Linked DNA regions of Homo sapiens. The protein of the gene in region 1 purifies or fractionates together with the protein of each later gene. This does not show direct contact. Each region holds a gene or a part of one and is shown on either strand. Other genes may lie near its edges.

Evidence for each region. Proteins that work in one complex are often made in the same cells at the same time.
Region 2: the proteins of CCNC (region 1) and SPEN purify together in Homo sapiens (affinity purification with mass spectrometry; 4 studies listed by BioGRID and IntAct, with this or other methods). This does not show direct contact.

Annotation. Positions count from the first base shown.
Region 1 is NC_000006.12:99,551,650-99,558,675, forward strand, and holds part of CCNC (cyclin-C), read right to left. Parts: intron 6,900-7,026; coding exon 6,848-6,899; intron 2,153-6,847; exon of another isoform or gene 247-2,152; coding exon 191-246; exon of another isoform or gene 1-190. UniProt on the Homo sapiens protein: Component of the Mediator complex, a coactivator involved in regulated gene transcription of nearly all RNA polymerase II-dependent genes.
Region 2 is NC_000001.11:15,927,683-15,934,708, reverse strand, and holds part of SPEN (msx2-interacting protein), read right to left. Parts: intron 6,619-7,026; coding exon 1-6,618. UniProt on the Homo sapiens protein: May serve as a nuclear matrix platform that organizes and integrates transcriptional responses. In osteoblasts, supports transcription activation: synergizes with RUNX2 to enhance FGFR2-mediated activation of the osteocalcin FGF-responsive element (OCFRE).

The DNA.
Region 1 (7,026 bases):
TGATAATCGCCACTATGAAGTATTTTTTTTAAATGGTAAAAGCTATTTAGCTTTAATTTAGAATAATGTCTGTATTTATGTAATATTTGAAACTGCCATTTCTAGGAAACTATTAAATTTAGTCTAATATAAAATAGAGCTAGTTTATATATAGCTTTGATAATTGTTCCATTTTATATCATATACTTACATGATTCATCCTATAAGGAAATTCCTTTGGAAAGGCATATGAAAATCTAGTTTTTACTGCAGAAAATAAAAAAAAAATTTAAACTGAGAAAATGGGAAATAAATTAACTCAAAATTCCTTTAACAGAGCAGAATATTAGAGGGTAGAGCAAAATTATTTTCAGTAGGAATTCTTGGCAACACTTACGGACGCAGATTTTTATTTACTTTCAGGGAAGGGGAAAGACTGGGGGGCAGGACACTCTACACAGCTTCAATTTTATATTTACTACCTTAAGAAAGGATTCTGATGTTTAAAAAAGAAAAAGATCAGGAAAAAAAAATCACTGGCTTTTATCATTTCTAAAATCTTTTCAGCTACAGAATGGTATTCTTCTGTTTTCCAGTGACTGAGCTTAGAAGGAACACAGGGGTTACATATGTGTTTACAATATATACAATTGGTAAAAAATATACATATAAAATATTGGGAGGATAGTACACCAAAAAAATGTTAACAGTGGTTATTTGTGAGATTTAAGAACTTTTTACTAATCTGCACTTTCTAAACTTTTTACAATGACCAGGTATTTATCAAAATATATATTTTAATAAAAGCATTAATATATATGCAAAGGTCTCGAGTTACTCATAAAGTAGTAGTAGTAACACATAAAGTTAGTACTCTATTATCTATTACTTTATTGGTTAGTCACTAAATAAAGTACAAATGAAAAAAAAATGTTAACCATCAATCCCCCATCTCCTTAAAATGGTGTGAGCATATACACATAAGTACTATTTGAGAAACTGTATTCAAGCCATTATGACACATTTAATTCAACCAAGTAACTACTGACAGGTCCTAAAAAATGTTTAGTGTCAGCTTCCATTTGTACAAAGCCCAAGTGATTTCACTGAAATTAAAAGAAATTCCATTTCTGGCCAGGCACAGTGGCTCATGCCTGTAATCCCAGCACTTTGGGAGGCCAAGGTGGGTGGATCACCTGAGGTCAGGAGTTCGAGACCTCCTGGACAACATGGTGAAACCCCATCTCTACTAAAAATACAAAAATTAGGCGAGTGTAGTGGCATGCACCTGTAGTCCCGGCTACTCGGGAGGCCGAGGCAGGAGAATCCCTTGAACCCGGGAGGCAGAGGGTGCAGTGAGCTGAGAACACACCACTGCACTCCAGTCTGGGTGACAGTGAGACTCCATCTCAAAAAAAAAAAAAGAAAGAAATTCCATTTCTTCTATGCACTATGTTTTCAAAAAGATTTGTTTTGCAAATTCAGTGCCCTACAGCTAATTTAGATGTGTAATATCTGCCAGGATTTGAAACCTAGAATAATTTAAACTTGACATTAGTAAATTTATAATCTTTCCTTTCTTCTCTCCTTTATTTAAATTTAAGACGTACCTATTAAGGTTTCTGAGTTTTACAAATCCTTGTGATGTAAAGTATACCAGCACAACAGGTTCTTATATAATGGTAGACAATCAACAAAGTAAAATTATCTCTGTATATAAAACAAATCTACATCCCCATCCCCTGGACCTTGACACCTAACACCTCTATTGAGAATATATTTACCTGATACTGTCACATGTCTGTTACTCCATGCTAAAACTGCTCTGCATTTTTTTCTGTCTTTTAATCCTTTTCCTCCAACTTGGAGAAAAATACATCCCTCCTCTCTATTGTTTGTCTTACCACTTATACACTTATTATCATCTATTCAATTGATAACTCCTGCTATTTTTTTCATCTTTAACCTTCCTCCTTCAGTAAATCTTCCATCACATACTAATATGCTCAAATTTCCCTTGAAAAAAGCAAAACAAACTCTACCTAATTATATTCCTCTGCCTTTTATTTTTGTAGACTCAAACACTGAGATCATGCACAGTTCTCTTATACCCACCGTTATTGACTTCCCAGCCTCCAGAACTGTGAGAAATAAATGTCTGTTGTGAAAGCCACCCAGTCTATGGTACTTTCTTATATTAGCCCAAGTGGACTAAGACATGCCTTCACCCAGCTTCCCCTACTATTAACATCTTACATTAGTATGGCGCATTTGTTACAATTACTGACCCAATATTGAAATGTTATTATTAACTAAACTGTACTTTTTTCAGATCTCCTTAGTTTGTACCAATGTCCTTTTTCTATCCTAGGGTCTTATCTAGGATACCACATTATATTTATTTGTCATGTTTCCTTAGACTGTTTGGCTGTGACAGTTTTCTAGCCTTTCCTTGTTTTTGATGACTTTGACAGTTTTTAGGAGTACCAGTCAAGTATTTTGTCAAATGCCCCTCTACTGGAATTTGTCTGATGTTTTTCTCATTAGACTAGAGAAAATGGGTTTTTGACAGGAAGACCACCGAGATAAAGTACCATCTTCATCATATCACATCAATGATACATGATATTAATGTGATTTATCACTGTTGCTACTGACCTTGATCGCCTGGCTAAGGCAGTATTTCTCAGGTTTCCCCACTGTAAAGTTACCTTTTTCCTCCCTTTCCATATGTACACACTAGCAGGAAGTTAACATGTATAGCCAGCACCTTAGGAGTGGGGAGTTATGCTCCCTCTACTTGAGGGCAGAATAGTTACATATATTATTTGGAATTCTTCAGCATGGAAGACATGTCTCTTCTCCCTCATTTATTTATATCAGTATGGACTCATGGATATTTAGTTTATACTTTGAGTTATTATCCAATGCTATTTTTAAAATTTTGATGCTCAAATTCTTTCAGCTTTGGTCAGTGGGAGCTCTCTTAGTTAGCTCCTATATCCTTTTGACATATCCTCATCAATAGACGTTTTTGTTTTTCTTGTTTGTTTTGAATACTTCTTTATTACTGGCATTAAGAGATGGTCCAGGTCCATCTTGTGTATTTCTTGCCCCAGTCCTAGAATCAACCATTTCTCCAAGGAGCCCTGGTACCTTTTATTGGAGAATGATATTAGAAACCAAGATATGGGTACTAGGTGAGCTCATTGCTACTGGGATGTCATTGCTTATAGACCCTTTCAGCTGAGAAAGCCAAGAAATACACACACTAACCCATGTATATACACTTATCTATAAATATTTCTATATGTAACTAACCATCTATATTGTATTAAGGTACACGAGTTCATGCTGTTTCCAGCCCTTTGCTTATCTGTAAATTCCCGCTCCAACAATGAGAAACCCGGCTCTCAAACATTTGCTATTGATTTACGTAATTGTTTAATTCCCATATACATGTATAGCATTATCAGAATTGTTAACTTGTACACCCATGGGTAATAACTTTATCAACTAGAGTACAGTGCTTATGTGTAGTTCCTTTTGCCTTTACTCTTACACTCTTAATCATTTCCAAAGCTACTTATGTCAACACCTTTCCCCCAATTCCCTTCACTGAAGTTGTTTCATATATTTTTAATATAGTTAGACTATTCCTTTCTCAGCACCTACTTGCTTCTTAATTCCTTGCAATCTGGCTTCTACCTCCACCCCCACATTGTTAATGACACTATGTTCTCTCTCAAAGATGTTTTTTTCTTTGGTTCACATCTTTTTCTATGCAGCATAAGACATTGTGGAACTCTTTTTTTTTTTAATTTTTAGGGACAGAGTCTTACTCCATTGCCCAGGCTGGAGTGCAGTGGCATAATCACAGTTTACTGCAGCCTTGAACTCCTGGGCTTAGGCAACCCTCCCACTTCAGCCTAGTTGAGTAGCTAGGACTACAGGTGTGTGCCACCATGCCCAGTTAGTTTTTCTTTAATTTTTTGCAGAGCTGGAATCTTGCTATGTTGTCCAGGCTGGTCTTGAACTCCTGTTCTAAAGCAATCCTCCTGCTCCAGCCTCCCAAAGTGTTCGGATTATAAGCAGGAACCACCATACCTGGCCTGTGCAACTCTTAAATGTTATCAAATTCCAAATTTCTACTGCTGGCCTCACATTTTTAAGAGGATGTTCTACTAACATATTTATACTTAGAATGTCAAAGATTAAATTTAATTCTTTTCAGAACTCACTTATTCTCTTTTTCAGTACCAGCTTCAGCTCCCCAACCCCCAGGCAAAAAAACCTCAAAACACATTTCTGACTCTTCTTAAATCCCTTCTTTTTATAAGAACTGCTGACTCTATCGCTCAAATCTGGCTTGTTTGTTCTTCTTGCTGGCTGCCAATATTCGTTTAAGCCTTCATTAGTGTTCACTGGGATGACTTCAGCAACTTAAAAATTATTTTTTCCACTTTAAACTTGTTAGGTTTTATTTCTCATAGCACCCTGTGGTAAGTGACAGCACTCAATACAGTTTGCAGTTTTACTGTATTTCAGAAGGTTTTTGTTTTTAAATTGTGTTAAGATATACAAAATTTTTGCAAAACTGAAACTCTGTATCCATTAATCACTCCCTATACCACCCTTCCTCCAGCCCTACCATTCTACTTTCTATCTTTATTAATTTGACTAAGTATTCCATGTAAGTGTAATCACACAATATTTGTCTTTGTTACTGGCTTATTTCACTTACCATAATGTCCTCAAGGTTCATCCATGTTGTGGGATGTAAATAACTTCAAAATTTGTCTAATTCTACCTGCCCTCTCCTCCAATTCATCTTACATAATTCTGTCAGATTTACCTTCCTAATGCACAATGCTAGCATTACCCTCATGTGTGAAAATAAATAAAACTGGCCAGGCACAGTGGCTCACGCCTGTAATCTCAGCACTTTGGGAGGCTGAGGTGGGTCAGATTTACCTTCCTAATGCACAATGCTGGCATTACCCTCATGTGTAAAAATAAATAAAACTGGCCAGGTGCAGTGGCTCACGCCTGTAATCTCAGCACTTTGGGAGGCCTGAGGTGAGGAGTTTAAAACCAGCCTGGCCAAAATGTTGAAACCCCATCTCTACTAAAAATACAAAAATTAGCCCGGCGTGGTGGCACACACCTGTAATCCCAGCTACCAGGGAGGATGAGGCAGGAGAATCGCTTGAACCTGGGAGGCAGAGGTTGCAGTGAGCCAAGATCGTGCCACTGCACTCCAGCCTGGGCGGCTGAGCGAGACTCCATCTCAAATAACTAACTTTCATTACTGTCAATAGAACAAAGTGCAGATTCCTTCATTTAGCATCGAAGGCCCTCTATTAGCTGAAATTAGGTAAGGAGTTTTCCCCACTATTTCCTTACTCACCATTCAGTTAATCTAACTCATGAGCTTTCCCTATTTGACTAAACTATTCAGTGTTCTTAGACTGTCTATCTCTTGCATTTCCCCAGTTCAACTTCCTTCACCAAGTTCTACTTAATCCTTTCTGGATTCATGAAACAATCTTTTCCCACCCAAAACATTCACAGCATTCTCTGTAACTCTCTTATACTATTTATTTCCTTCTGTATTAATATTTTTATGTTTCTGTCTTCTTTTTTTGTCCTTAAATTCCTTGTATTTTACCTTGGTACCAATGCCACTGCATTGGCACAGTGTTTTCCAGTGATAATGATGTTGTTGTCATTGAAGATGATGATGATGATGATAGCCCCTAAAGTTTACCAAGTATTGTGGACCAATATATGTCCCCCTCCAAAATTCGTATGTTGAAGCCCTAACTCCTAGTACCTCAGAATGTGACTGTATTTGGAGAGAGGGTCTTTAAAGGGATAAGATTAAATGAGGACAGGCCAGACATGGTGGCTCACACCTATAATCCCAGCACGTTGGGAGGCCGAGGCTAGCGGATCACGAGATCAGGAGTTTGAGACTAGTCTGGCCAACATGGTGAAACCCCGTCTCTACTAAAAAATACAAAAATGAGCTGGGCATGGTGGCACATGCCTGTAGTCCCAGGTACTCAGGAGGCTGAGGCAGGAGAATCACTTGAACCCAGGAGGCGGAAGTTGAAGTGAGCACTCCAGCCTGGGCGACAGAGCGAGACTCTGTCTCAAAAAAAAAAAAAAAAAAAAGAAAGAAAAAAAAAAGATTAAATGAGGACATAAGAGTGGGGCCTAATTCTGTAAGACTATTGTCCTCACATGAAGAAGACAGCAAACCAGGAGTGTGTGTGCTCACAGAAAGGTCCATGTAAGAATAGCCAGACACCTTGATCTTGGATTTCCATGCTCTAAAACTGTGAGAAAATACGCTTCTGTTGTTTAAGCCACCTGTTCTGTGGCATTTTGTTATGGCAGCCTCAGCAAAGTAACATACTAAGCAAGGCACTGTTCTAAAAGCTTATATTAACTCATTTGGTCCTCATAACAACCCAACAACACAGGAACGGGTTTGCACATAGATATTAATATCTACCCATAAGAATGACATAATAGTCATTAGAAAACAATAAAATACAATAAAATTCGGAAACAGAATTTTTTCTTTACTCTTACAAGATTAAAAGCCACTGAGTTGATGTTTTTGGATTGATAATTACTATCCATTTTAACATTAAAAGTAATATCTTTATATCTTTTTAAAAAAAAACCTTTTAGCTTGATTTTTTTGCCAGATACACTAGATATAAAGTTATCCTCAGGAAATTTAATAAAGCCAACCAATCTCATATGTCTCATAAACTAAAAAAAAAAAAATCTATGTACTCTGGAGCTTTCTTTAGAATTACATCCTTAAAGCAGATATACTTTTTGCACTTACATACAGAAGTAGCAGCAGCAATCAATCTTGTATTTGAAACTACTCCAAATTCCTAAAGAAAGAAAAGCAGGTACATGTTAACCCAATGAATCTAAGGGTATCTGAACTCTATTCAAAACAGGATTTCCTTGCTCCTGTTTACAATCTGTTCACCTTCTAACTACTTGAGGTGTGAAGTA
Region 2 (7,026 bases), on another chromosome or scaffold:
TTCTGCCCTGAGTAACTCAGGAGCACAACCCCTTCAGAAGTGTTCACACGCAGCCCCGCCCCTGAGCCCGCGTCTGCCGGACGATCGTCGATCACAGGCATGGACCCTGGGTGGAACCGACTGTTTTCATTAGCACTCGCTCTCTGTTTGCACTTTGTTGACGGCGCAATCACTGCCCCTGCCATTGTCACCGTGCCTGTTGTGGCCGTTACACCACCAGATGCAGCAGTAACCGCACCCGCTGTGACGGTCACTGCACTTGCTGTGGCATTCACTGCACTCGCAGCGGCATTGACTGTGCCTGGGGCGGCATTCACTGTGCCCACCGTGGCGTTCACTGGAGTGGTGAGAACATTCACTGGCCCCGTAAGAACATTCACAGGCCCTTTCAGGACGTTCACGGGCCCAGCAGGGGTGCTCACCAAACTTTTCAGTGTGGTCACTGAGCCCTTCACGGGGCCTTTCAGGGCATTCACCGGGACCAGGGAGACGTTCACCAGGCCAGTGAGTGCGCTCACCAGACCAGTGAGGGTTTGAGGAGCTGGTTTTGCCAAGGTTATCTTCTGTGAATTTTCCAGGTCAATGCTGACAGGCATCCGGCTAATAACAGAGGTAATTTTGGGAGCAATGACTGGAGCCACCTTTTCCTTGTCAGCAGCTACCAGCACCTCCGAGGCTTGTATCTCAGAGTTGTTTGTCACTGGAGGTGCTGTTTTTTCTTCTAAAGGCTTTTTAGAGTCAACTGGCGGGGGCGGGGCCTCATGTAGGCAAGGGGCAGCACTGACAGGCTCTGCAATGGCTGTGGTGACACTTGTGGAAGTGACACTTGTGGCAGACACATACTTGGGGTCCATGAGAATCTTCCTCAGGGTGCTGGAGCTGGTGTCAACATCAGAGGCCTTTGTGTCTGGGGGAAGAGCTGGAGATGGAGTAGACTGAGCCCGTGGCTCCTCCTGCCTTGTGATCCACTCTGTCACCTTAGTAGGGGGGCTCTGGTGTGGGATCCCCCCAGAGGCGACAGGAGGTGAGAGCTTTGCTGCAGTTACAGAAGGCAGTGTGGGTATGGGGATGCTTGGATCGCTGGGTGGGGTCACCGGGTCACTTTCAATGATGGAATGCACCCTGAACCTGGCTTGAGGCTCCTCATCCACCGGTGCTGGCTGGGGAGGTGGGGGAAGGTCTGGGGGCACAGATGCTTTGGTTGGAGTCCTTTCCTCAACACTGATTTCTTGGGACGAATTCTCTGTGGAGGGAATCTTGCTTAGGTCAGAAGTACATGACTGAGGAGGAGTGGAATGGGGTTTCTCACTCTGCTTTTCTTCCTGTGGGGCTTCGGGGTGCTGTACTGTTGTCCCCTCATTTGCAGCAGGACTCTCACCTTGAGCTTGGTTGGATTCAGGGACATGGCTCTCTACAGGAGCCACCACTTTCTTGTTTGTGTTTCGCTTGCGGCGTGATCGGGTTGTTTTCTGGCGCCCTTTGTCTTTCCGAACAAGAGTGACTTCCACTTCTTTAGACCCTTTGGCTTCTGGCACTGAGTGTGAGGTTTCACTGCTATTTCCTCTGGCTTCCTTGGTATCTGTTGGGCCGGCTGAGGGGTCAGGAGCATTGACTGGAGGCCTAGAAGATTCTGTAGCAGCCTCAGTTTCCAGGATGCCAGATACAGCCTCATCTGTCTCCATTCCTTCCTCAGAAGGCTGCAGCGCCTGTGCACCTGCGGGGGGTTGCAGATCTGTCTGGGATTCTCCAGGATAAGGTGGAGGTGCTGGGAAGTTTTCTGGCTCCCCAGAAATGTCATTGATGATGGAGCCGATGGCCGCAGCCAGCTCTGTTTCACTTGCTTGGTGTGCAGGCTTGTCCCTGTCCTCTGGGGCAAGGCCCTCTGGTGCATCTGCCTTATAGGCAGCAGAGGCAGAGGCCTCAGCGAGCTTTGCGATGTGTTCCACGGCCTGCTCCAGCTCCATCTGCTTGGCTAACTGGGTGGCTTCTGGGGACGGCCCAGAGGCAGACACGTCTTCTTTCTCTGGTTCCTTGTCTGGATCAACTGGATCACTTTTCAACTGGGATGATAAACCATCCTCCTTTTGGGGACTCTCACTTTTCTCAGGGGAGACTGCCACCACCCCAGATTCCCTCTCCCCTGCCTGTGCTGCAGCCCCCCTGGGACTGACAGCAGCATCCACATTTTTCAGACTTGCAGATTTGTCCACTGCTAACCTGGAGTTTCGAGATCTTCCTCTCTTTGATTTGGAGTTTTTTTCAGGGGCCGGTTTTTTCTCTACAACTTCAACAGGGGCGGTTTCAGGGGGGTTTTTGTCTGTGCCAGCATCTTTTCTGTCACGTTTCTGTTCACTCCCTGCCTCCTCCTCAGCAGCCTTGGGTTCCATGGAGCTCTCTTTCACGCCTATTTGGGGGCCCACCTCAGTGGTGGCCTCAGGACGTGTAGCATCCACCTTCGGTTCATTTTTTCCCTTTTTCCCTTGGGGTCCACCACCAGCTGCAGTTTTCTGGGACCTTGGCGACCGCCATCCCTCAGGTGGCTTGAGTGTTTCTGCAGGTTCCTTGGCCTCGTTCTCCTCCTCTTCATCGGCTCGCCGGCGTGTCTTTGGAGGCCTTCCCCTCCGAGGGGTGGTGGGAACCGCTGCAGCCTCCTGAAGCTCTCGCTCCAATCTCTTTCTGGTCACTCTTGGTTGCTCAACGGGCTCTTTGACAGGAGAGCGGTTTTCATGGTCACCCATGGTTGCATAGACGCTCCTTACATTCCGGCGCCTTGTTCGGCTGAGAGGCAAACTTGGTTCGGGATGTTCAAGGTCTGCAGCAGAGTTTTTAGAAGCAGTCCTTGTAATCTTCTCTGCCTCCATCTTCAATTCCAAAAGCTTCTGTGCTTCTCCCCGAGGAGAATTGGACCGCTTGAGTTTTTCCCGGTCTATCCTCTCACTCTTCCTTGTGACGGGCTTCTCCACGATACTCACTGCAGCTGCCTGAACAGGGGTCTTTGAACGCTTGCTTTTGTTTGGCTTTTTATCCTTTGCAGCAACTGGAGGATCAACCTCTAAATCTTCAGAAGCTGGGGGCTGAGACTCAGGAGCAGCTTCGGCTTTCTGGTTTGCATCAGGCTCAGCATCTGCAGTGGCGTCTGGCTTTTCGGCCTTTGGCTCATTGGCTTCCTCAGACTTCTGAGCTGGTTTTGAAAGTGGCTGGGTACTGTCAGGCTCTGGATCTACGTTGCTCTCTGCCTGGGAAAACGAGGCCCCGGGAGTTGGAGGCTTGGCATCCAGATAAGGCGGCTGGTCACCTGATGAACCTTCCTCAACACCCGCAGGCATCATGGCAGCTTCTTTATCGGGGTCTGCTCCTGGGGGCAGGTCTACTTGTTCCAGCTGTTCCACAGGGGCAGGAGCAGGTTCAGATGCAGGCTTTGCTTCTTCTGAGACGGTAGCTGGCTCCACAGTCTTCTCTTCTGTTACCAAAGGCGCCTCTACCGTTTTGTCACCAGTGGTCTTCTCTAGTGCTGATGGGGCTGATTCTAGAGTTACGACTGTGACACTTGGAGGCCCAACGGAAGGTGGAGTTTTCAGTTCTGAATCTTTATTCTCAGGAGCAGATTCTGGGGTCTTGGGATGATTCTCTGTATCTTCCTGTTTCTCAACCTCTTTGGGTTTCTGGTCTTTTTCTTTTTCTTTCTGTTGCATCCGTGTGAGCTCCATAAATCTGCTATGGAACAGAACTACTGGTTCTTGAATGGAATCAGTTGTGCTGTTTGCTCCCTCAGATGTCTGCTTCCCATAGATCCTACCAGAAATGAAGTCAGAATCTTCCTCTTTTCTCTCTAGATGCTGCAATCGCTTGGAATCTTGTTCAAAGATTGAGCTGTGTAAAAAACGAGAAGCAAACAATTCCTGCCTCTCTTGCTCTTCTTCTTTATGGTCCTCTTTCTTATCATCCATTTTCCCTTCTGAATCAGTCCTAATTTTCTTCTTTTTCATGTACCAGGATGGAATAGGTCTTGGAGCAGAGTCAACCTTTTCTTTATCTTTGTTGTTTCGAAAATTTGCAAATCGGGAGTCCCAATCAAGAAAAGACCAATTTTCTTCACGAGATGAAGAGAGGGATTTAGCTCTTTCAAGCAAAGCTTTAGTGTCTGGTGTGATTGTCTTATCCAATGCAAAAGAGTAAAATTTGTTCCTTTCTAAAGAACTAGAGAGTCTTTCATCTCGCTCACGTAGCTTGTCTTCTCTGTCCCTCAATAAAAAAGACAATCGAGAACTTTCATATAATGCAGAGGCTCTGGGTGAGTGGGATTTGTGTTCACCATCTTCGTCAGAATCAGAAGGCACCTCACCAGGTTCCAGATCTCGTACAGACCTTTTTCGAAGGCTATCTCTCTTAATTATGCTGTTTGGGAAACTCACATCAAATCTGCCAGCATCCTGTTTCATCTGAGAGTCCCAACGATTTAGTTCATCTTCAGAATTCAAGACAGATAGTTTTATTTTGGCCATATCTGCCATCTGTTCTCTCCTGCTAGAATCATAAGGATTAAATTTTAAAGACTCTTCCCTGACTGTTATGTTAGAATAGGGGAGGACTTTTTCATCTACTTTAGGAGACCCTTTTACTGACAGTAGCCTAGGGGAGCCTATGGGATCCTCATCTTCATGGAAGGAACCATGTCGGACACTGGGAGAACCACCAGTCCTTTCAGAATCTTCGCTGATTTGGCGTGAACTTCTGTAATTCCGTTCTCGCTTGGTGCAGATATCAAAATCGACATGATCCATCCTTTTCTTTTTGCTAGGAGGAGAGTCATCAGTGACATCTTGAGGGGGTTTGCCTACCTCGTGAACGAGGCTACGTCTTTCATATTCATCTACATCTTTTTTAGGACTGCCAAACTTCTCAGACTTGGCTATTTCCATTTCCATCTGCTGTTTCCTACGACTCTGTTCCATTTGTTTTCGGTAACTCTGCGTGTGATCGATGTCAATGCCAATTTTTTCTTCAGTATTTACTGAATGTGATTTCTCTTGGCCTGATTTACGTTCAGGTGTTTCATCACGAAGACTGCAATAGTTTTTCCTAACGTCTTCTCTCTCTGGTCCTTGATCATCTAATACCTGCAGCTGTTTGAGCTGTGGTTTTGAGGGAATGGGCTTTTTTGATTGGACTTCTTGATTTTCCACAGATTCACCTGCTAGTTCTCCCAGTCTTGCTTGTAGGTCTGAGCTGGGCCTTGAGCCAGACCCAACAGAAATACTGGCAAGCTCCTGACAGTCTTTGGGGCTGGCAACAGTATTAAGTCTGTCCAGTTTGATTTTTTTAGATTCTCTTTTAAGAATTTCTTTCCTCACAGGCTTTCTTTCAGCCTCTCCTTCCCTCAGCAGAATGACCTCTCTAGAGGACACGTCAGGCTGCTTTTTTGAAAGCACGCGAGCATCCTCCATCTCTGGACTGCTTTTCTTGACCTCTGGTTTTTGCTTTTCTGCTTTTAAATTGGAATCTGCAAAGCGCCTTTTCCTGGCTTCCAGCTTCTCCAGATCCACAGCACTTACCCCATCTGCAGGCTGCTCAGGCTTGAGGTGCTTCCTGGCTTTAAGCCTGCCTTCCTTCTCCACCACTTCAACATGGCTTGAAAGCCCCTTTTCCTTTGGTACTTTCATTCTAACTGATTCCAGTTTAGACAAGTCAGATTTTGCAGGCTCCGTCTGAGAGACCTGAAGTTTCTGGTCCAGGGCAGAAGATTTGACAGTGTCATTATCAAGCTTGGCTTTCAACTTTTCCACAGGAGTGTGGTCAATGACCTTTCCCTCTTTCTCTTTCACTCGAGTCAAAACCACGCAAGGCATGAGTTCCAGGCGGTTTTTCGCTATTCCCTCTTTGTCAGCTTTCTCTCTGCTCAGTTTATTACAACTCCTGGGCTTTTCAGGGCTTTGCTCTCGCTCATTTTCTTGGTCCGTTTCTGAAGACTGAGAACTAGGGGAGTGAACCTTTCCTTTGCGTTTCTGCTTGTCAGTTTTGTCCTTTTCCACTTTTTCCTTCCGTATTAAGCGTCTCTCTCTCTCCACTCTCTCCGGATCAAAAGTTCGTTCTTTATCTGTCTTTTCATTTTTTGTATAGCGCTCCAAACGAGACTTGTCCAGTTTCTCATATCTTGGAGGGGAGAGTGAGCTACAGCTTCCACTCCGGTCTGAGGATCGGCTGTAAAGCCTCCTCTCAGAATCACTCGGCAACCTCTCTGCCTGAGAGGGAGACGCTCCAGGACTCTGTGGACGTCGCAAGTGAACAGGACTTTGACTTCGTTCAATCGGCCTCCTCTCATGGTCTCTGTCCCGGTCAGACTCAAATCTTTCACGTTCTCTTTCTCGTTCCCTTTGCCTGTAACTATATTCCCTAATATCTTGTTCATAAGGATCATTCCTGTAATCCCTGTATTCCCGAGGATCATCGTAGTATCGTGATTCATAGTAGTCTCCTTGGTAAGTTTCCCATTCTGAATAAAACTCTCTCCCTCGAGCTGGATAGTCCCGCCTGGAATCCTCAGGATAAGTGCCTGGAGTTCGAACACTCTCATAATATGTACGATCTTGGTTATAGTCGTAGGATGCCCTTCGTTCCTCTCTGCCAAAAAATAACAAAGATATTAGTTCTTTTGTTTCCTCATCACTTATGCATAAAATCATACATATGAAATCAGAAATTCCTGCTTCTAAAAAATCTTTTGACATTATTTAATCATTTGTGAAATGATTAGTTTGTAGTAGCTATCCACTATAGCTTCAAGTAGCTACTAGGCACTTGAAATCTAGCTAAATTGAGATGTGTAAAATACACAGCCAATTTTGTAGACCTAGTTTATAGAAAAACAACAATTTAGACTGATTATATGTTGAAACAACGTTTTAGATATATTAAAGAAAATTTCACTTTGTCTTTTTAATGTGGCTACTAGAAAATTTAAAATTACATATACAGAATTTATATAACTTACATTATGCTTCTATTGGGCAGTGGTGATTCAACCCTTTT